Linked DNA regions of Homo sapiens. The protein of the gene in region 1 binds, or shares a complex with, the protein of each later gene. Each region holds a gene or a part of one and is shown in the gene's direction. Other genes may lie near its edges.

Region 1 (8,058 bases):
TTATGCAGGTGATTCCCAAATACACTAACTTTTGGAACATCTGGTCTGGCTCAGCTCCTTCAAGATTCTGCCTTTAGAGGCCAAGATTTTATTTTGATGCTAATACTTTCCATTATACAAAGCTGCCTTTTGTGCCCAAAGCAATTAGTGGCAATTGATAAACTTACAATAATAAATCAAGGAATATTTAAGAATAAATAACCTAAAAGAAAATCCAAATTCTTTATATAGATCTGGTTCCTGCCAGACTCTTCTATCACTTTCTGCCTTACTTATGGTGCTCCAGTAAGTTTATTCTCACCTCACGGTCTTTGCATTAGTTGTTCCTTCTGCTTGGAGTGCTCAAACATTAACATGAGTAGACTCACGTTTTACTCAAGACTGCTGAAACATCTGCTCCTTCAAGAGGTATTCCCAATCTAAAGTAACTTTCACCCCAAACCAGAGACTAAATACTATAGTCACTCTCTGTAGTATTTATCAGCATTTAAAATAATCTTAATTTATTTACTGTCTTAGTCAAAATATACTTAAGCTCCCTGGGACCAGGGATTGTGTCTGTGTTGTTCATTGCCTCAAGCCCAGTATATATTTTTTCTGACTTTTTAAATATTTCTGCCACTAATTGGGACATCACATAGACATATTCTGAGAATTACACTTCTTTTTATTCTCATACACAATAGTTCCATGTCCTATAGATCATTCTTACGTAAAGTCAAAGCATTTAGTTGACAAAAACATGCCAGTCATAAGCTTCCATATTTGTGGATAAGGTCATAAAAGCATTGAATGCATTCCATTGATTTATTCTTGATTGTTCATATAGGAAAAGATGAGTGTAAGGAAATTATGAATTTTTTTCTATTTTTGGATTGAAAAAGTTAATATTGTTTTTATTTATTTACTTTTTTAAAAACTTTTATTTTAGGTTCTTGGGTACATGTGCAGGTTTGTTATATAGGTAAAATTGTGTTATAGGGGTTTGTTGTACAGATTATTTCATCACCCAGGTACTAAGCCTAGCACCAAATAGTTATTTTTTCTGACCCTCTCCCTCCTCCCACCCTCTACCCTCAAGTGGGCCCCAATGTCTGTTGTTCCCCTCTTTATGTTCACATGCTCTCATCATTTGGCTCCCGCTTATAAGTGAGAGCATGTGATATTTGGTTTTCTGTTCCTGCATTAGTTTAAAATAAAGGCCTCCAGCTCCATCTATGTTGCTTCAAAGGACATGATATCATTCTTTTTTTGGCTGTGTAGTATTTCATGGCATATATGTACCACATTTTCTTTACCCAGTCTATAGTGATTGGGCATTTACGTTGATTCCATGTCTGTTATTGGGAATAGTGCTGCAATAAACATATGTGTGTATGTGTCTTCATGATAGAACCATTTACATTCTTTTGTGTATTTACTCGGTAATGGGATTGCTCAGTTGAATGGTATTTCTGTTTCTAGCTCTTTGAGGAATTGCCACACTGCTTTCTATAATCGTTGAACTAATTTACACTCCCACCAACAGTGTATTAGTGTTCCCTTTTCTCTGCAACCTCACCAGCATCTGTTATTTTTTTGACTTTTTAATAATAGCCATTCTGACTGGTGTGAGATGGTATCTCATTGTGATTTTGATTTACATTTCTCTAATGATCACTGATATTTAACTTTTTTTCATATGCTTGTTGGCCGCATGTATATCTCCTTTTGAGAAGTGTCTGTTCATGTCCTTTGCCCACTTTTTAATGGGGTTGTTTGATTTTCTTGTAAATTTGTTTAAATTCCTTACAGAAGCTGGATATTATTTTCTCCCATTCTGTAGGCTATCTGTTTATTGATGGTTTCTTTTGCTGTGCAGAAGCTCTTTAGTTTAATTAGATCCCATTTGTCAGTTTTTGCTTTTGTTGCAATGATTTTGGTGTCTTTGTCATGAAATCTTTGCTAGTTCCTGTGTCCAGAATGGCATTGCCTAGGTTGTCTTTCAGGGTTTTTATAGTTTTGAGTTTTACATTTAAGTCTTTAATCTATCTTGAGTTAATTTTTTATTATAGTATAAGGAAGGGGTCCAGTTTCAGTCTTCTGCCTATGGCTCACCAGTTTTCCCAGCACCATTTATTGAATAGGGAGTCCATTATTGGGTATATACCCAAAGGAATATAAGTCATTCTACTATAAAGACACATGCATGGGTCTGCTCATTACAGCACTATTCTCACTAGCAAAGACATTGACTCAACCTAAATGCCCATCAACAGTAGACTGGATAAAGAAAATGTGATACATATATACCATGGAATACTATGCAGCCATCAAAAACATAAAAAAGAATAAGATCATATCCTTGGCAGCACCATGGGTGGAGCTGGAAGCCATTATCCTCAGTGAACTAGTGCAGGAACAGAAAACCAAATACTGCAGGTTCTGACTTATAAGTGGGAACTAAATGGTGAGTATGCATAGACATAAAGATGGAAACAATAGACACTGGGGCCTACTTGACGGTGGAAGGTGGAAGGAATGTGAGGATTGAAAAACTACCTATCAAGTGCTATGCTTATTACCTGGGTGAGGAAATAATCTGTATGTCAAACCCACTTGACATGCAATTTTCCTGTATAACAAACCGGCACATGTACCCAAACCCAAAATAAAAGTTAAAGTTGGAAAAGAAGCAACAACAACAACTACAACAACAAAACATGGGTGTTATTGAAATTCCTGAAATTTTTGGGAAATAAGATTGTTATAAATTTATTCTAAGCTTATTCACAATTTTAAGACTTTTCTTATTTGCCTGTTGATTATTGTGAAATAAACCTGACTGATATTAAAATCAATAAAAAGTGTGCATCAATCAGTTATGAACAAAGTTAGCTTGACAAATCTAGGTATACCATTTATTTAATATGCAGAAATGTTAAATTTGGATGAAATTATTGACAAATACACAGAGGTTAAGGCTCAAAAACAGAAACTGTAATATTATTATTCATTCCTGTGGCAGACCACTATGTAGATATAAGTATTTTTCCTTTGAAAAATACATTAATGCAATTAAAACACCTTGATCCATTTTTTTCCTTTTTTGGTTCTGTACTATTTATTTTGCATTTTATTTTTATATTGGCATATATATGTATGTATATGTTTATATTAAGTTCAATAAAAGAAAATAGTCACTCAATGTTTCTTTTGTAGCCAGTATTATTAGTTTCATTTCATCATTATTTCTTAAAATAATTTTGTCATTTACAGGACAGTTCTGTTAAAAAGGATCTGTTTTGGGTATGAAATGTGATAGGTATCAACTAATGCCTAGTATATAGTTTGCACATAATAAATATTTGTTGATTGAATGAATGAATACATGAATTAATATTGGGACTGTTAATGGGCATATTATGAGCATCTTCTTTCCTCAGAATCCTTCAGGGAGGCCTACAGCAGACCTTGCTCCTGTTGTGAATATTGCAATATACCCTTAGTATATTCTCCTGATAGCACCAAAATCATCCTTTAAAAATGTAAATTAGATCACATCACACCTTTGCTCAAAATCCTCCAATGATTTCCCATCTTATTCAGCATAAAATCCAAATTTATTTTGGCGGCACGAAAGCCCCTACACTGTGTTACTTCGCTACCTCTGAAATTATTGCTCCAGCCTCACTGGACTTTTTCATTGCTGTTCCTTCCGTATGCAACCCTCTTCTCTAAATTCCTCCAGGACTTTTATCAAATGAGCTTATCAGAGTCTTTCTCTCATTGATATAAACCAGTAAACTCCCACCTCATTCCCATACTGTTTTATTTTCCTTCATAGCATTTGTCTCTTTTTTAAAATTTATTATTTATTTTTATTTATTTATTTATTTTTTTGAGACGGAGTCTCGCTCTGTCGCCCAGGCTGAAGTGCAGTGGCGCGATCTCCGCTTACTGCAAGCTCCGCCTCCCGGGTTCACGCCAGTCTCCTGCCTCAGCCTCCCGAGTAGCTGGGACTGCAGGCGCCCGCTACTACGCCCGGCTAATTTTTTTTGTACTTTTAGTAGAGACGGAGTTTCACCGTGTTAGCCAGGATGGTCTCGATCTCCTGACCTCGTGATCCGCCCGTCTCGGCCTCCCAAAGTGCCAGGATTACAGGCGTGAGCCACCGCGCCGGCCTCATTTGTCTCTTTTACTCCTGTAATCATAAGCTCTGTGAGGAAGCCACTATGTTTTGTCTATGCCCCGAACAACTGCCCGGCACAGAGTATGCTCTCCGTGACTTAGTTTTAGAATGAATGAACTTACCCATGTTTCGCAGAGGTAATAAGTTGTTTTTCTTACTATATAATTAATTATTAAAGCAGCTACATTTGGGTATTAAGTCCTTATCTGGACATATCACATATGCCCGAAACAAAATAATTAAAAGTTCTGCACCCAGGAAAATAACTCCCAACTGGACTATTGATAATGTTCTGGAAGGCTTTATCTGGGACCGGGAGGGTCAACCACAGGGGTGAACAGTTTCTCCAGAAGACAGCTGACCGAAACCGCAGCAGTTGCCAAGGCGGCTGGAGGAGGGCGGAGAAAAGGCGGTAACTGGCAGGCAAGGGGCGTAACGGGGTGGGGCTGTCCTAAGGGAAGCCTAGTCGAACTGATTTGTCCCTCTCTGCTCTCCGTCTGAAAACCTTGGCCGAAAGGGTTGTAGACATGGCGGCCATCAGGGTAAGCGAAAACCAACTTGCTTAATTTCTGTGGGTGCCGATAGCATCCCGGTAACTGTAAAAGGGATCCTACTAACTTCTGAAGGAGCCCTGAAACAAGGGGCAGGGTGGAGGTGGGTTTTGAGATAATTGCAATCTTTATCGTTTGAAGCCTCAAGACACCTGCCTTTCCCCATTAGGGTTTTATCAGCCTGGGACGCTGCTCCCTCAATCCCCTGTGGTTGTCGATTTACACAGTGGCACAGTACAAAACTGGGAAACGGCTGGGTGAAAATGGCTGGCCAGGCGACGAGCCGCAGTAGACGTTTCGGTCTTCAGCTGCAATAAAGAGAAAAATATATATATAAACTTGGCATTTGTCTCGGCGCACAGGGCAAGGCCACATGACCCTATGGAAGGACTTTGTTGAAACATTTGGGGTGAAACTGACCAGGATAGAGAGGTCCCATAGTCTTTCAGCAGTGCGCTGGTTTACACATAGTGTTGTTGCTTTCTGTGCTCGAATAACCTGTTCCTTTCGAGTTTTACGCTTGGGAAAGGTGCCTTTACTTGGGAGTCCGTGTACAGTGAGTGACTCAGCTGGCAGCTTGCTGCAGTTCCCTAAGTAGTGTTTAATAATGGTAGTCTACAGATATTTACGTAGCGGGTTTTAATTGTAAAATATTCTGTTAGGCTTGCAGGAGATACAGTATGAATAATTCAGTTCCGCTGAAGTTTTAAGTCGGCAGCGTCTACAGTTCTGGTTCTCATACTTCATCTGAGTTATTTGAACAACCTCCTACCTGAACTTGCCACCTCAAGCCTGGCTCTCATGTAATCTGTTTTCCTCTGTGTTGCCAGAGTACATCTACCAAAATGCAAATTTGATTTTTGCCTCCCCCCGCATTTAAAAAATTTTATGGGCATGTCATCATCTCCCCTCTGGGGTCAGGCCATACTCTTATGTCTAGAACATCTGATTTTACCTAGACTTTCCAGCCTCATCTCTTGTCACTCAGGAACCCTCCTCCTGTCGATACTGAGCTGCTTGCTTGACCCCGCCATGCTTTTTTACGTGCTCTTTCTCTGGGCCTAAAGTGCCTTTTCCCATGCTTATCTAGTTGTATTTATAGTTCATTCATTCATTCAGCAGCTATTTGTGTACAGCCTCCCCATATGCAAAACACAAAAATGCCTTGTTTAATAGTGTCCTTGATCTCCCCAGTCTATTTTATTTTATTTTATTTTTTATTTTTGAGACGGAGTCTCTCTCTGTCTCCCAGGCTTGAGTGCAGTGGCGCGATCTCAGCTCACTGCAACCTCCACCTCCCGGGTTCAGGCGATTCTCCTGCCTCAGTCTCCTGAGTAGCTGGGACTACAGGCGCATGCCAACCATGCCCGGCTAAATTTTTTTATTTTTATTTTTTAGTAGAGACGGGGTTTCACCATGTTGGTCACGCTGGTCTCGAACTCCTGACCTCGTGATTCACCCCCCCCCCCCCCCGGGCCTCCCAAAGTACTGGGATTACAGGCGTGAGCCACCACGCCCGGTCCTCGCCAGTCTATTTTAATAACTCTTGTTTGTGCTCCCAGAGGACTCTGGGCACACTCTTAACCAAGCATTTATTCCACTGCACATATAGACTACTTACTTGTCTGTTCTAGCTACCTAAACTATAAGCTCCTTGAAGACAGTAATTATATTAACCTTTGTATCCGTAGTACCTAGCACAGGTCTGATGTATATTAGGTAGTCAACATGTTCTACATGAATAAAGTGCCAGGCAATGAGGACAGAAGAGATTAAGTGGTGGAGATATAACACATATAACACAAATGACTGTGATTCAGAGTAAGGGGAGTTTCTTACCTGAAGAGAAGTACAAAGTGCTCTGACGCTCAAAAGGAGAGAGCTCACACTTGGTTTGAAGAGAGTAAAAAGAGGCTTCATGGAGAAGGTGCAGAGACAGAAGGAATGGTCAGTGGCAAAAAGCAAACCAGAATAGTGTGTTTTCATTGAGAAGAAGAGAGTTGAACAGTCCTTTGATTTCACCATTAATAAGTTGCTGCTGTTATCATTTATTAAGTGCTTACTCCAGGCCAGGCACTATGCTAAAACACGTTACATGTGTTAATTCACTAATTCTCAAGACAACTTTATGTGGTGGGTATTATTACCATTTTACACATGAAAATTAAGGTTTAGAGAAGTCAGATTATTCAAAACCATGCTAATAAGAGCTGAAGTGAGCTAAAGAGATAAATAGAGTGGTAGAGGAACAACCAAGATTGTATGGGGTTAAGAAAAGAATAAGGGATGGAGAACTGGCATTCATTTAGCACCCACTTTGGCCAGATGATTTACATATATTATTTTAGTTTAATCCTCTTGATGACCCTAAGAAATGGGTAATATATCCATTTTACAGATGGAAAAACGGAGGCTTAGAAAAACTGCTTGCTCCAGGTCATACAACCACTAAGTGGAAGAACTAGGTTCAAACAGTATATTTATCTCCAAAGTCTTTCCACTCCTCCTTGCTTCCTCTGGAAAGGAGTTATACATTACTCTTTAGAGAAGTTTGGTGGTGAAAAGAAGGAACAAAATCTTGGAATGAGGGTAGCAAATTCCAGAAAAGGTGTCTTTTAATTAAAAAAAAAAAAAACTAAAAACAAAACAGGAGACAGAAGACTTGAGCTACTTTGGAGACAAGGGAAAATGTACCAGGAGGTATCTAGAGGGAAAGATAATAGTATTTACAGCTATTGTGTTATTGAATATTGACTACGTGCTAGGAATTTTGCTAAGCACTTTATGTGGATTCTCTCATTTATGTTTCACATTGGCCCTATGAGTAGGAATTTATATTAATCACTTTTTACAGGTAGGGAAACAGAAGCTTAAAAAGGTCAAGTAACTCCAAGGTCACACAGGAGTAAAGTGGTAGAGCTGGATCTGAAATCACATGGTATGAGTCCTGAACCTGGACTCTTAACCATACTTTGTAAGAAAGTGGTAAAATCAAGAGAACAAGTGGAGGGATTAACCTTGCAAAGAGGAGACACACTTTGCTTCAAAGGCCAGAGTTGGTCGAGATAGAAGGTGAAGATACCAAGTGATTTTGAAGAACGGAGGAGGTAGAGGAGGGAGCTCACATTGGAGGTCTGTATCTTCTGGGTGGAAGGTCATCTGCTGAGAGGAAAATATGCCTTTAGGAGTTTAAGAATGGGATAGGCTTGGAAAAGGTGCTTTAGGAAATTCAGTAAAGTATCAGTAGACATTGAATAAAATATTAATAATTGCTGAGAAGTGAGGGCCTGGCTAATGTTGGCTCTAGTAGTGACTTTCTCCAGCAGTGCTCACAGC
Region 2 (7,456 bases), on another chromosome or scaffold:
TGGAGACATTGTGGGTTTGTTTTTGTTTTGTTTTGTTTTAAGGAAAAACAGAGCTTCTACCTTATGTGGGCCTGCTTGGGATTAAATGAGGTAATGCTTCGCACATTGTGCAGTGAGTTGTGATTACCTAAGAATGAGTTTTTGAACTGCCTTGGTGTTTTAGAAATCTGTGGCCTGCATTATGTTCTGAAAGCATCACTGTTGCTGGAAGTAGAGAGGACCGTTGGGAGGCTATTTAATGACAGTGAAAACAAGGGCATGGGCTAGGGCTCTCCTGTAGGCTAGACTTGGGAGTGCTCTGTGGGCATGGGGGCTGGAGAAGTTGGGTGCTCTGGGTGTGCAGCTGGACCAGCTGGGTGTTGGTGCTGCCGACCCAACTGAAATTCAGGAGGAGGAGATGTTGGGATGAGGGCTAGCCACATCTGGTCCATGTGGGCCCATGGCCACCTGCTGGGCTGCATGGCAGGCAGGGGACAGCAGGTCTTGAGCTGGGCACCATGCTGGTGTGCTGAGGGGACAAGGGCAGGGGCCACAGGTGGAGCTCGCACACAGGCAGAGGCCCAGGGTCCAGCAGAAGAGAACCAGAGTAAGTGGCCAGAGAGGCAGTGAGGGCCAGGCAGGTGCCGTCAGCTGAGCAGTGAGGCTCGGCATGGGGCCCAGGGGAGTGGGGCAGGGGGAGCCCCAGGCAGCACCTCTCTAAGCAAGGAGAAGCTGCTGTGGCCTGGGACGGAGATGGAGGCAAAAGGGGGTTTCGATTTGAAAAGCTTTTCCATATTTTGAGAGATGAATGTGTTTTGGATGGAGTGCGGGGAATGGAGAAGGTCCAGGAGAGGTGGTCAGTGGGAGAGGCCCGCTCAGGCACAGGGGTTGGGAAGGAACCACATGGGGCCTCTGGACTCTGCTGTGTCTGTGGTCTCAGCCGACAGGGTGGGGGCTCTGGGAGTCAGGCAGACCTATGCGGCCTGCTTGCCAGGGACCAGGACCCATGTGCCTTGTCTGTGGCCATCACATTCTCAGGGCCATCAGGAGGCTGGATGTGGGGTCTTCTGTGGTCCTATTTACTGAATGCCAATGATTCCTTCAGGGCCACACTGCGTTACTGAGCATGTTCTGACCGGGCCGTCTTGGGCATCACCTGCCATTCTCCTGCCATCCTCTCAACAGCTCTGTGGGGTGGGGTCCTCCCCCATACCTGATGCACCGACCACACAGTGGAAAGTGACAAAGCCAGCGCCTTGCCCCAGGTTTGTCTGATCCCAGAACCTGTGTTCTTTCCACTAGACCAAGAGTCCCAGCCTCAGACATCTGCCAGCTCCTTGTTGAAGAGACACCATGATTATGCAGACTCGCTAATGCCCTAACATGCCTGAGGAGGAGGCACCACTGAGGCTGGGCGAGGTCTGAACTAGGTCTCGAATGATATCAGAGCTTACGCTGTAGAGGGAGGGACCCTTTAAGGTAAGGTCCCACCCTCCAAGCCCTACGTTGGCAGTTCCACCACCCCAGCATATCCTCAGCTCTTCTCTGCCAAGTGCCTCCAGTAACCCAGCCTTTCTGCAAGCTCACCCCACTCCAGACCCTGGCCCCACCTCGGTTTCTCACACTGATGGCTAGGTTGCTATGAGAGCTGCACTTCACAGCATGCAATTCTGTTCTTCTATGGGGCAAGCGGTGTTACTGTTCCCATTGTACCAATGAGGAACATAAGAGCCAGTGAGGTGAGCCAACTTCCTGGGCATTGTCTTTGATGCCTGTGCAAACAGACACCCCATACACCAATGCGAATGGTGTGAACCCCTTCGAAGCCACATGGACCATTAGATCTTCATTCTCCAAGGAAATGTCCTTACACAGGGGTACAGGACTTATTTCTATCCCTGGCAAGTTTGTGGCACACTTTGGATACCTTTATCTGTGCATGTGAAGAGTAGCTGTTTGCAAGACCATGTTTCTGAACATGGGAGCTGTTTTGTATGCATTGTAAACAGGGTCATGGTGTGCCAGGGCTGGGAGGGGTTCAGGGTGGATAGAGTGCACCTACTTTTGTGAATGGCTTCACCGAAGGCCTAGCCCTGCCTTGCTTCAGAGAAAGCTTTTCATTTCCAGAGCTATGCTCTCCCTGTCTTATCCCATTCAGAGCCTTTTTGTGGACAAATGGGTGAAATTTCTTCCAGTTGACATTTGCCTTCCATTCTGTCTCCTCATATTGTTCTGATAAGTCCCAGGAGAGAGAGGCTGTCATGGTCCCACGGGCGATACTGGCAAGGAGGGGATAGATTTCGCCATGGCCCAGTTTCTCCTAAACTGGGAGCCCACTGCGAGGTTTGCCCTCAAAATGCAGAGGCCCTTGTCCTGGGACCTGAAACTAAAGTAGGAGAAGCCAGTGAGGAGGGGACACAGCCAGGCTGACCATGGGGAGAGGGGCAAATGTGGCTGTGTCTTCCTGCACATCGCCATTCTGCAAAGTGTCGGCGTCTCTGTTGTGCCTCTGTAGAGGGCAGGGCTCAGCAGGTCAGCCCTCCAGCTCCATGAGGCTCAGCCACATGACTCAGGCTGGGGCCACTTAGCCTCCGCCTGTCCTGTCTATGGTACCTCTTTTCACATAGATCAGTAAGCCTCACAGAGTTACAGCTTAGGACAGCTCTGCCCTGACTAAGCCTGGGGCTTCCCCTGAGCCACTCACCATGACACACAGGTCCCCTCAGTGCCTGCTGGCCTCCACGGTGCAGCCAGGAACCAGGCTCACCAGGGCCCCATGAGGGCAGGGTGGGGTCCTGCTTCAGGGGAGTGCAGCAGAGGCTATGATGGAAGTCATGCTCTGGGGTCTCAGACTCTAGAGGGCCAGCACCGTCAGGAGGAACAGAAGACACAGCAAGAGGCTGGTATGAGGGGACAGCAGTATAGGTGACAAGAGAGAGCCCAGGGAGACTGGCAGTGCCACTGAAGGCACCCACTGCCCTGCAGATTTAACCCTGCCTGGGGAGGGGAGAGCACAGCCTTCTAAGGCTGGAGACTCAGGGAGCAGAACAGGAGGGGAGGCCTCTGCGATGGAGGCAGAGAGCCTGGCCTGTGACTTGAAAGTGCTCCTAAAACAGGTGTCAGAACACTCAGAACCAAAGCTGTATGTGCAGTCCCTGAGAACACCTGCCTGAGACGAAATGCCATGAGGCCAGCCGTCCCCCAAGGAAGAAGCAGCCTAAAAAGCCCACAACTAGACACACCCATGTCACAGTTCTTAAATACAGATGTGGAGCCGTGCTTAAGCACCTGGAGACAAATCAGGGGCTGCCCCAGACACCCCAGCTGTATTCTTGCCCCAGCCGCCTGTGCGGCAGCTGACGCAGGCCAGTGAAGCGGGTCTCCGGAGCTGGGCAGAGGACTGCACACCAGGGGCTCATCTGCCCTGCATATGTAAGAACGAGAAGTCAATGCAGATAAAACCCCCCCCACCCAGTCCTCTTCAGGAAATAAGAGGACCCTTTAAGACTTGGTGCATGCAATGCAGACTTGAGTCAGAATTGTGACCTCAATGGCTAGGATGGGGTGGAATTCAAGGACCCAGGCCAGGGCTGGGCCACCATGGCCTCCCCTGGCAGGAAGGGGAAGGCGTGCTCTCCCTTCACATCCTTTACCTTGGCGCTGGTGTGGCATGGCAGTCACAGGCGGCTGCACCCCACCCCACACTCATCCCTCCCCGTCTTTAATTTAGGGACTGTTCGTTTTGTTCATGCCCTGGGGATGGGTCTTGCTGGCCTTAGCTGAACATGGGACACTCACTGCTCATGTTAGCGATGGTGTTAGGCATGGGTATGTGACCTGGTCCTAGACAGTGAGTGGAGGAGAAACCTGGAGTGGGGTTTGAGGGGAGCATTGTCCCGCGTAGTCAGATGAGACAGCAGAGAGACCTGCTCCTCCCTGCTCCCTTTGACCTCTGCTGCAGAGAGGACTGCGCTGCATACAGTGGCCTGGGGATGACATGGACGAGAAGGGAAGACCAGACCCAGGTGGCATCACTGCTAAGTCAGCAGTGTACAGAAGTGTCCACCCGCAGACTTCCAGAGCAAGACAGCTAAATATGGGGTCCTGTTCCCAAGCTGTCGAGCATCCTGGTGCTGGTGGTTTCTAGCTGAGGAACTGTGTTCAAGTTATCGTTAGATGATAACGGCTCTGGAGACCCTGGTGGGAGAGCAACTGACCTACATATCTCTCTCTCCACGTACCTGGAGTGGAGCTGTGGCATGTGTGACAGTGATCCTTTCTATTGCTAAGAAACTTGAGGAATGGCTTTCTACATTTTTACAGCTCTTTTTGGTGCCCTCAGCCGTGAGTGGTGTTCAATTTGGAAAGGCTGTTAAGTGTTACAGTGGGTCCGTCTACAGCTGGGAAGGGTCCTGGCCTAAAACCCACTTAAGAAAACAAATGAGCAGCAACAGTACATCCAAAGCCATGTAAATAAATATGTCCCGCTCCTCCACTGTCCAGCTGCATGGCCTTAATTCTCTGAGCCTCAGTTTCCTCATTTGTGTGAACAGCATGATGAACGATAGTGTCTGCTACCAGAGCTGTAAGGAGCAGCACTGAGCACGCCCAGCAGCCGGAGGACAGCACCTGGCTGGCAGGGAGTGCACGAATGTGCTGTTGTGTGTGTCAGTGTGCGCACGAGAGAGAGAGAGAGAGAGAGAGAGAGAAATCTGGAAGGAGACCAACCAATCCAAAATTACGCTCAGGAGGCTGGGCCAGTGACTGACTTTAGTTTATCTATATTTGCTCTTTTTTTCCACAACTTTAGAAAGTGAACTTACTCACTTTTGTGGGTTCTAAAACTACTTTGAAAAAGAAAGAAAAAAATAGTAAATTACCCCCAAAATATTATAATGGTTACCTCTAAGAAGTAAAAAGAACATTTTTCATTTCTTTAGACATTTCTGTAGATTTCATTTTCCTTATTGCACGCATATTAGTTTTAAATCAGGAAAAAAAATAAGTCACATGGTTATAGTCACGGGTAAACCACAGGCACAGGAAAGCCCAGGAAAGCAGCTGACGGCTATCCTGGGCACAGTGGGGCGGGCTGTCTCAGGCATAAAGGGATGGCTATCCTGGGCACAGCGGGGCGGGTTGTCCTGGAGGCGGGCTGCACCATCCTCATGGGGGCCCTCCAGTGGGGCTTTCCTGTCTCCTGAGTGTACACAGGCCCCAGTGAAGGAGCCCGGTGTGGAGCCCCATACCACAGCATGTTTCAGTGTCTGCTATATTGTGAGCCTAAGCCACCCACCACAGGGCTTGACCCTGCGACCGTCCTCTCATTTCTAGAACGGGAAAGCACAGTGCTTCTCCTTGAGGGTTAAAAGGATGCTGCTGGGTGTCAGGGACTTAGCCTAGCGCCTGGGAGGTAGGTGGAGTGAATGTGAGTTGTTTCTCTCCCCTGCCTGCTGGCACCTGAGCCCCAGGCCTGCCTGCTCTTGTCTTCTGCAGGCCCCGCAGGGTGGAGCCCGTCTGCTCAGGGTTGCAGGCCCAGATTCTCCACTGCTACCGAGATCGCCCGCATGAGGTGCTGCTGTGCTCGGACCTGGTCAAGGCATACCAGCGCTGCGTGAGCGCCGCCCACAAGGTAAGGCCTTGCCTGCCTCCCAGGTTTCCAAGGGCCTTGGGAGGTAGGCGAGGTACCTCTATCTAGCATTGGAGATCTCTGCCTGCCTTTTCCTGTTAGAATCAGATGCTCCACTTGGAGGTCTCTGCATTTGCCAAGGGAGGGATTCTTCGCTTTCCTCAGTCACCTGCACACTCTCCTGGCTGCTTCCAGGAGCGCCTTGGACATCTGGCCCCAGGGAGATGATCCCTGTTGCGTTTGCCCTATTAGGCTGGGTGGGAGCAGGCTGGGTAAAGTCAGGCCCCACCTTCAAGGGCCGGGCCCCTTGTGGGTGCCGGGGACTTCTTAGCCCTCGGCACTTAGGGGTGGGAGGGTGGCAGAGGCCCGAGTGCAGAGTGGGGGTCCCAGCAAGGATAGGCCATCTGGAAGAGGAGTGGGAGCAGATGTGGCCATCAGAAGCTGCTCACAGCCACCCTGCCCTGAGCTGGTCTACAGGGGTGTGCTGGCTTGGCCTTCCTGGTGAGTGGTCCCAAGCCTCATGTGCTCTCTGGTCACCTCCCACTCCAGTGGGCCTCGGTTGTCCTGGATGCCTGTGATGCGCTCCCAGCCAGCTCCTACTGCCTTCCTCCCCCACCCCCAACTGCTGCTCTCTATCCTAGATAAGTCCTCCCCCTTCCCAGGTCCCGTAGCGTCCTCTGGTGCAGTCAGGCTGTTCCCAGCCATACCTCACCCTTGCCCCACCCCAACAGGACAGCTCCCACCTTGGGGAGCATCATTCACTCTCAGAACACCTAGTTTGGGCTCCCCAAGGAGTGCGGCCTGTTTGTGAAAATGTATGGGAGAAACAACAGGACGAGGTCTCCTTTCCCACGTAAAAGCCTCTTTGGCCTGAGTAGGAGACAGGCTGCTTTAGGTACTTGGGATGGAAAAGGCTGAGGCCAGATGCTCTGTGCTCTCCAGCCATGTCCAAGGGGAGATCTGTCCCACTGAACTGAGCGGGGTCCTGCAGCCCCAGGCCTGCAAGAGCTTCCTTGGGTCATGCCCTGCTCACACCCATCTGCCAAGGCTGATTGTTCCACTCTTTGCTGGTCACAGCCCCGTCCAGCACCGACTGTCCCTTCATGGCCAGAACACAGCCCAGAAGTAGCTCCACACAGGATGAGTGGTCGCAAGGCCTCTGTCAGCCTTCCAAGAGAGGGAAGCCCTGGGTAGGACAGGCGGCCTCCTCCTCCATCTCAGAGGATGGAAGGCTGCTCACTCTGCTTCCACGTGGGCAGGAGGCGCTGGGGCACTGGGTAGGCTGGGCCAGACCAGGGCCCTTCGCACCGACCAGACACTTAGCTCCCTACTCACCAGCAAAGTGAAGCCTCCAGATCCTCCACACACCCAATCAAGGGCAGCTCCGAGTCTCTGTTCATCACACACCTAACTCTTTACCGAGGGATCTGCTGCAGCCTCTTGGCTTCCTGGCAGGGCCTACGCCTCAGTGGCCAGCCCTAGACTCCATCCTCTCTCCATCCAGCCCCACCTCTGTGGTAGTTTTCAGCCCCTACCCACCACCCCTAAGAGTATTTCTTTAACAAACACACCTCACCAATATATCTTCCTCGCACCAAGGCAAAAATGTGATTACCAAGGAAGACAGATCACATTAAACCCCAGTGTATTCCCTGAGAGAGGCTCTGGGACACTGCCAGGTCTGGCTCCCTCCTTCCCGGCCCCTACCCCTGACATGACTAGCAAAGAAACCAGAGACTGAGCAATGGCAGTGCCAGAGGCCTGCCTGCTCTCCCCACGTGCTGCCTTGGCAGTGTGTGTGCATTTGGAGACGGCATATTCAACCTGACTCCCTCGGAGCCCCAGCAC
Region 3 (7,456 bases), on another chromosome or scaffold:
GAGGGAATAGAAACAGTTTCACAGTTTCTCCAAAGTCAGTGAAGTGAAAAACAGCTGTCTCTGCACTGGCTGGCAGAATGTACCCTGCCGGCTAATAAAGGCCATTAGAAAATGCAGGCTCCCTCCAGCCAGCCGTAAGCCTCCCCTGGATCGTGATGCCTTTCATCCTGTGAAGTACCATGGGAAGTGTGACTCTGAAAACAGAGCAGGAAGCCAGGAACCTGGAGCCTGACAACCAAGGGCAAACTGGGACCAGAGGCAAGGACCAACCCCAGGAGATGCCCAAGGGACAGAGGTCAGTGTGGGACCTGCAGTTAGATGATGAGTCTGTCAGGGGTCCCCCAAACCATAGCAGAAGTTTCAGTCAGTAAGCAGGCAGTGGGACAGTAGCCACGCAAACAGTTAGTTCAGCTCACAATAAGGACGTCTTGTAAATGAGACAGCCCCACCTCAGACCTACATGCTTCCTGCTGATCTCTTTGGAGAGATCAGAAAGGAACCTGGCCACAGTGAGGAACTTGGGGTCAGGACCCAGTAAATGAGGCTAGATCCTAATGTGACAGCTCTCCAACTTAAGGCTAGTGCACCCCGTTGTCTCGTTTCTAAAATATCATTGACATCTCCAGTATTTGGTTGGCTTCCTAAGTCAAAGCCTCAAGATCAGTGCATATGGAGGAATTTGCCCTGGCACAATTTCTGTCCGCCTTCTGAAGGACAATTTCATCTCCCCGGTGAACTGTATTTATATTAGACCAGGATTCTGCTCCTAAGTCTGTGACATATTTTGAGTATGAAGGGGTCCTGAAAACATAGTAGTAGCTTTTGCTTAAAAATCAAGGTTCTTGAAAGAAAAACCTATTGCCAGAGCAAGCTGTATGTTATCATTGTTTTCAGATGAACTCTACATTAGATGCAAATGATTTAATAGACTTATAGGCTGTTGGAGCTAAAAGGACCCTAGAGATCATATAACCCAACCTCATTTTTTTCATGTGCAAAATTAGCTTCCAGAGAATTTAAATGATCTGTAGAAGGGCAGAACCCAGACCAAACAGCCCACTCTTAAATTCAAAACCAGGGTATTTTTCCTGTCGTGTCAGATCTCAGATGTGGGTGAGCATCAGAATCCCCTGAGGGGTTTGCTTAAAATGTACCCACCCAATCCCCATCCCTGGAGATTCTGATTCAGAAGGTCTGGGGTGAGGCCTGGGCATCTGAACTTTGACCAAATTTCCCAGGAGACTCTGTACCCAAAGTTTGAAAACCATTGCTCTTAGAGCCCATTGGCCTGAATTGCATTAAAGGTCTTTGACCTTTCAGAGGTCCTGCCAAGTCCTTGTTTTCCATCTTTTGGGAGATGGGGAGCTATCACTCCCTATAGGTCAAAGCTACCTGGCAGAGGTCTCATCAGACCAACCCTAGGAATGAATCTTTAGCCTTAAGAACAAATTGGAAGATGATGTGGGAATCAGATGGAAGCCTTGAAAAGAGATCCCCTTCCCCTCTTCTCTTGCTCCCATTGAAACAGTAGGTGACCCCAGTCCCCTGGCTAGCTCACAGCTGTGACCAGACCCTCCCTTGGTTCTACTGCTCCCAGTCACCCTGCTTCTCTCCCCGACCCACATCAGGGTCCCCCCGATGTACACGGTGGCCACTTTCAGAGAGCACGAAGATAATCAAGAAGGTTAACTTTCTGGGAAGCCCCCCAGGAGCATGTTTTTATTGTGTTCGAAAGCTGCTTTATCATTATCGCTTGATGACATTTATTAATTGCCCAGCTGGGATGCTGGTCACAGGGTGACTGACACGTGGGTATTTCATAATAGATTTCCCATTTTTTTGGTAGGGCAGCCCTTTGAATTTAGAGTCAGATCAAAGCAAACAAAATTCCAAACTTTAAATTTCCTATCCCAACCTCTTCCATCATAGGAATCCTTTTCTAAACCACTTTCTGAGAGTAATCGTTGCTTCGTGACATTTTCTCTTTTTTTAAATCTGAGTTTAATAGAAGAAATACTACCATGGTAATAGATTTTCATTTTTCTTAATAGGTATTTCTTTTCCCATGGTCATCCTTCAATTAGAACTGCAGTATGTTAGTGTTTTGTCTGTTATTGCAGCCAGCTGTATAAACAGTTAATTACTTGTAACTTAATTTGAATATTATACAGAGCATTTGTCATAGAAGATATAAAACAAGATCCAGGCAGAAAAAAGTTAACTTCTATTTCCTCCAAAGCAGGAGGAACAAAGAACAAACAGCTCTTGCTGCAGGGGAATAGACACATATTGAAAACAAAATAAGTGATCTAATCAGATTTCCAGGTAGTGAAGAACAGTACTTGGTGCACAGGCAAAACTCGCTTTGTGCTTCCCATAAATTCAATTTATAGATGACTTTTCCTTCCTGTCTTATGCACAGTCTTCTCATTCTGGCTTTTTCCTCATCGAAGCTCCAGTGTCTCCCACTCCCCACTTTTCCTGACCCTCCTTAGTAAAACTCGTGTCTTAAGACCAGGTCTGTGCCAGGACACATCTCCAGTTTCATTTTTCCTTGGTTAGGTAGACCTTCCTGCTTCTCTACCCAGCTTTATGAGGCCTGAAGTCTTGGTGAGGCGCTGGGTAAGTTCATCCAGAGACAAGCACCCTGAGTGGTATCTTAAAAAACAAACCGCTTTTCTTCTCTTCATGATGATTGGTTAGCAACCCAGGGTTGCCATCATTTCTCTTAAATTATCAACACAACCAGTAGCTGGCATGCTGCTATGATAGTCAACCCCTCCAAGAAAGCTGTGATTCAAAAATCAGTTGATGAGATTACTGCTTAACAGAAATATTTGAGGCAAGCGGTTAGGATGGTTAGTAAGGTTTTAATAAGCGGAAATGACACGCAATCTCAGGTCTCCAGGGGCGCTGTTCTTATTTGTGAGCTGCCGGTTGTTCTTCAGTGGCTGGAATGAGAAAAAGACTTGGGAAAAGAGCAGTGTTCATGCCTGAACCACTCTCTTCTTTTGGTGATTTACCCAGCTGTTTATAAAAGGAGTTTCTGCAGGCCCAGATACGTGAATGATGAGCAAAAGCAAGGAATTTCTTTCTCCACATTAAGATTAAGTGTTAGCAGTTCCTTAAATGAAGGAAGCAATTTTTTATAACTTGCAAAGCTTCTCCCTCATTCTTTAGGGAATTTCCTATGTTAATTTATGCAGTGTTAAATTTATGCAGCGTTGAAATTCAGCCCAACAGCAGTACTTACGGAACCAATACAGAGACAGTAGAACCTATAAGGTGAAAGCTGAATAACACAGACCCCACCAGACTACGGATCCCTCCAGCCAAAAGCCCTGAGTTCTGAGTTGGAGCAGGTTTTGTCGCATAGCTGGAATATAATAATAACCCAAAATGTTTGACAGATGAATTCATCTTTTTTAAAAATCCAGCCTGCCATTGTGTTTGTTAATTTCCCTGATAGAATTGAGATGGTTTTGTACCACCCCTGCCACCCTTTGGTAGCAAGTGAGTGCAGTTTGACAAAATGTTTATAGATCAGCCCTGGTGCTTTTCTGTGGTGGTCCCACATGTCTTCAAGGAGTCACCACAAATCAGCTGAACCACTGTGCTATCTTGGAGGATTAGAATTTTAATACATGTAACGGTATTTTGTGAATGTGGCTAAAGGGGTTATTAAAATGTTACTTCTTTTAGTGTCTTTATGTGAGACTGGCCTGCTCATCCTCAGACCAGCCAGGCCCCATCTTGTCTCTTTCTGAAAGAGAGCCTAACATTCTTAGCATGATATGATTTGGCTGAAAAATTACCCATCTATATTTGGTTGAGGTTGCAGAGAGAATAGTAAAAACAATCTCTAGACTCGTGAAAACACTCTTTAACTGTTGCTTTCCTTAAGTTGTGGCAGCTGCAGGTTATTTTGCAATATTTGAAAGGAGGTACATTGTCATGTGGTTATCCTTGTAACCCTAAGCCCAAAATTGTAGAGAGGGGTACAGCTATGTAATCTTGACCAGGCAGATGACAACTCAAAGCTCCCATCAGTGTGTTGAAGAAAGCAGTGAATCTATAACCCCCCCAAATGCAAATGGCTAAGTGGCATCATTTATAAAGAGATCACTTTCTCTAGTAACTGCATTCCCTTAGATAGGCTCAGTATAGATCTGCTTGATACTGGCTTCCATTTTGTATTTAATAAAGCATGATGTAGTGAGGTTGTCTATATATCTGGAATTTATAGAACTTATCATCTATGTGATTGGAGAGGCTCACACAGATCAATTCATAAGCAGGTGAGCATAGCTGAGATGCTGTGACGCTGTGACACTGCCAGGTGGTGTCTCTTACATGGTGGGTGCTCAGCGTGTTATTTTCCCAGCGAACATGGGGCTGGTGCCTCACATTCCAGTATGAGTTCTTACAGGACAACTCTCTGCTGAGCAATCTTCCACTGCACCTACTTTGTTTTTCCTGTTTTCCCTAAATGCATCTAGCTTTTCTAATTTACCTCCTGTATGACAGAATCATTGTTTTTCTCACCACTGTGTGTGTTATGTCTAAGTTTGTCTGCCTTTATATCTGTTCTTTTGTGCCCTATGACATAGACTTCTTAGAAACCTATAATGATGAACACTTTAGGATAATCTATCCACCCTTTGCTCCTATGACCCAATACACCATCTTGTTTGACTTCTACTCTTTCTGTTCTGTCCCCTTAATTTCAATCATTTTTAAATTTTTGACCCTAAATTGTTGTGTCTAGAGACCTTTGACCTCAGAGGGCCTACAGCGTCCTTCTAGACATTTCCATTTTGGATGTCTCACCCAAAATTGCCTCACAAACCCAAAATTTAAGTCATCCTCCTCCTTCCCAGGCTCCCACTGACTTCCCTGTTTCTCTTGGTGGCCCCATCACTGTCTTTGTCACCAAGGATCCTCCCATACCTTGGGTGTCACCATCTCCCTTTTTCTTCCCATGTAGCTCTAGTTCTTGTTTCCACCTTTGTCTGGTTTCTAATCTGCCTCCTCCTTGGGCTTCCTGCCTGCAGACTCCCCTCTGTTGGATCCATCATGCTGAGGATGTCAGGTTAACATTCCTAAATGCCATTCTCCTATGTAAAAGCATTCCTCCATGTTTTCTGTGGCTAGCAGGACATGTCTCAGCCTGGCGTCCGTCCTGGGCCCTCTTTCCACCCTTTCTCTTGGTCAGTCCTGAGCATGTACCCTTTCTTCCAGCTAGGCCTCTCCCCTCAGGATTCTGTGTGTGCTAGGCTTCTTCCCCTGCTGAATCCTGGCCACCGCTTTCTCCCCTCACTCCTCCCAGTCCCACCCCAGTCCTCCACCTGGATTCTCTCCATGGTGGAAGGTCCTTGGAGAAGCCTTCCCTGCTCGCTCCAGCTACAGGGTTGCCCTCTGCACCAGGCAGAACCATTCCTCTTGTGAACTGTGACCATCTCTGGAAGGGGACACAGAAACTGGGAAACGGAAGGAAAAAATTACTTTCTACCAGATACTATTTGGTTCCTGTTAAATGTTATGCTGTTTACACAATAAATTTTAGCATGTATTTAGCAAATAAATAAAAATTAGCAAATTATTACCTTTTATTATTCCTGAATTTTCCACAGGTGTATGTATTAGTTTCCCCAATGCACTAAACTGAGTGCAGTGGTACCTGGTAGGAGCTCAATGAAGAGATGGCTGGAAGGGTGCGGGTTGGCGGGAGGCAGGTGGGAATGGATAAACTAGAGGCAACCTCGGCCTCACCTTGCCTCTCTGAGTGGTTGCAAAACTAGAGGGGAAAGTATCACTTTTTTCTTCTTAAAGACCTCTAAAAATGAAGGCAGTATACCCCCATTTCAGCTGGTTATAGAGTTCTCATCTGATAGTTAAGAATTCTTCCTATCTACATCCTCATCTCCCAAATAAATAACTAAATAGAATGTAGGGACCATTTCTGCAATCTGGGAATAGGTACCAATCTGTGTAGCTCTGTCCAGCCTCATGAGCACATGAACATCTGCGTTCTCCCCCTCTGGGAAGGAATCTTGTGTTTCTCTAATGAAGAGATTCCCTCTCAGAGCCTTTGGAGTTGGGGTTTGATCCCTGCACTGCCTTGGCCATAGCTTTCCCCCGGTCACTGCATCCATCAGCCATGCTCCCAACATTTCCAAATGCCCCTACCAGGAGCACTTTTGCTTTCTATTTGAGACAGCAAAGACTGTTGCCCAAGCTGGAGTACAGTGGCATGATCATGGCTCACTGCACCCTCTGCCTCCCAGGCTCAAGGGATCCTCCCACCTCAGCGTCTCGAGTAACTGAGACTACAGGCACACACCACCATGCCCAGCTAATGTTTTTGTTTTTGGTAGAGATTGGGTTTCATTGTGTTGCCCAGGCTGATTTCAAGCTTCTGGGCTCAAGTGATCTGCCCACTTTGGCCTCCCAAAGTGCTAGGATTACAGGCGTGAGCTACTGCGCCCGGCCTTGTTGGGGTTTTCAACCCATGTGGTGGTGAGAGGGGTCATTTAAAGATCATATTGATAAAGCAATGGTGTTGATTAAAGGAGCAATATTTTGAGAACAGGAAGCATATGCCTTGTTTTCTGTGTTTTTAAAATTAGATATTTGAAAAGCAACACAAATCATACTAAATAGTTAGTGCCATTTATTTTTTGTCCTCTCCCGGTGGTAAAACTTACTCTTTCTGTTTTTCTTGCAGAGCATGCTTGAGAAGGGAGGATAAAAACTTTCAGAATGAGCAAAACACCATCAACGTTAATTCCAGAGATGGAACATTTTTTTTCCTAGTGAGAAAACAACCCATTTGAAGAGAAGACCACTAATGAGAAGACCACTAAAGAGAGACATCAAGAATGGATTCAGCAGAATCATTTCACGTTTTGAACAGCAGCAGTTTGAAGGGCCAAAGCCTTGATCAGGGATCAGTCATTAAAGGACACTCTTGAGTATTAGTAAACCCTCTTATGATGATTAAAAGAGAAGGGCAGCCCTCTCCACCTTTTGGTACTTTCTATTCAACTTGCACTGACCATAAAATGTTTCTCTTCTGAACAAGCCCCATCATTTGGTGAACCTCCACCCTAACAAAGTAGGATGGGGTTGGGGGCTAAATTAATTGGAGTGGGGCGAGGAGAGAGCCAGAAAACATAGATCCGAGGGCAGCAGTGCTGGGTGGAGAGAGCCAGAAAACAGATCTGGAGGCAGCAGTGCTGGATGGAATTGTCTAGGCTGTGGCATGTTGGTTTTGTCTTTCTTTTCTCCTTTGATTATGTAAGAGCTATTTCATTATAACTTATTATGGTGATTATACAGGCAAGAAGACAAAAAGGAGAGAAAATGTACCTCTTCTACTGGAATAATGTTTATGATTACAAGTGAGATAAGGTATTTTTATCAATATGAAGGCAACCTTGGCTGATAAAACCTC

The links.
Region 2: APOOL (region 1) and CHCHD6 share a complex: the UniProt entries of both Homo sapiens proteins name them as parts of the mitochondrial contact site and cristae organizing system (MICOS) complex.
Region 3: APOOL (region 1) and CHCHD3 share a complex: the UniProt entries of both Homo sapiens proteins name them as parts of the mitochondrial contact site and cristae organizing system (MICOS) complex.

What each region holds. Positions count from the first base shown.
Region 1 is NC_000023.11:84,999,215-85,007,272, forward strand, and holds the start of APOOL (MICOS complex subunit MIC27 precursor), read left to right. Parts: upstream 1-4,662; 5' UTR 4,663-4,698; coding exon 4,699-4,713; intron 4,714-8,058. UniProt on the Homo sapiens protein: Component of the MICOS complex, a large protein complex of the mitochondrial inner membrane that plays crucial roles in the maintenance of crista junctions, inner membrane architecture, and formation of contact sites to the outer membrane.
Region 2 is NC_000003.12:126,951,941-126,959,396, forward strand, and holds part of CHCHD6 (MICOS complex subunit MIC25), read left to right. Parts: intron 1-5,475; coding exon 5,476-5,611; intron 5,612-7,456. UniProt on the Homo sapiens protein: Component of the MICOS complex, a large protein complex of the mitochondrial inner membrane that plays crucial roles in the maintenance of crista junctions, inner membrane architecture, and formation of contact sites to the outer membrane.
Region 3 is NC_000007.14:132,784,932-132,792,387, reverse strand, and holds part of CHCHD3 (MICOS complex subunit MIC19), read left to right. Parts: intron 1-6,727; coding exon 6,728-6,751; 3' UTR 6,752-7,456. UniProt on the Homo sapiens protein: Component of the MICOS complex, a large protein complex of the mitochondrial inner membrane that plays crucial roles in the maintenance of crista junctions, inner membrane architecture, and formation of contact sites to the outer membrane.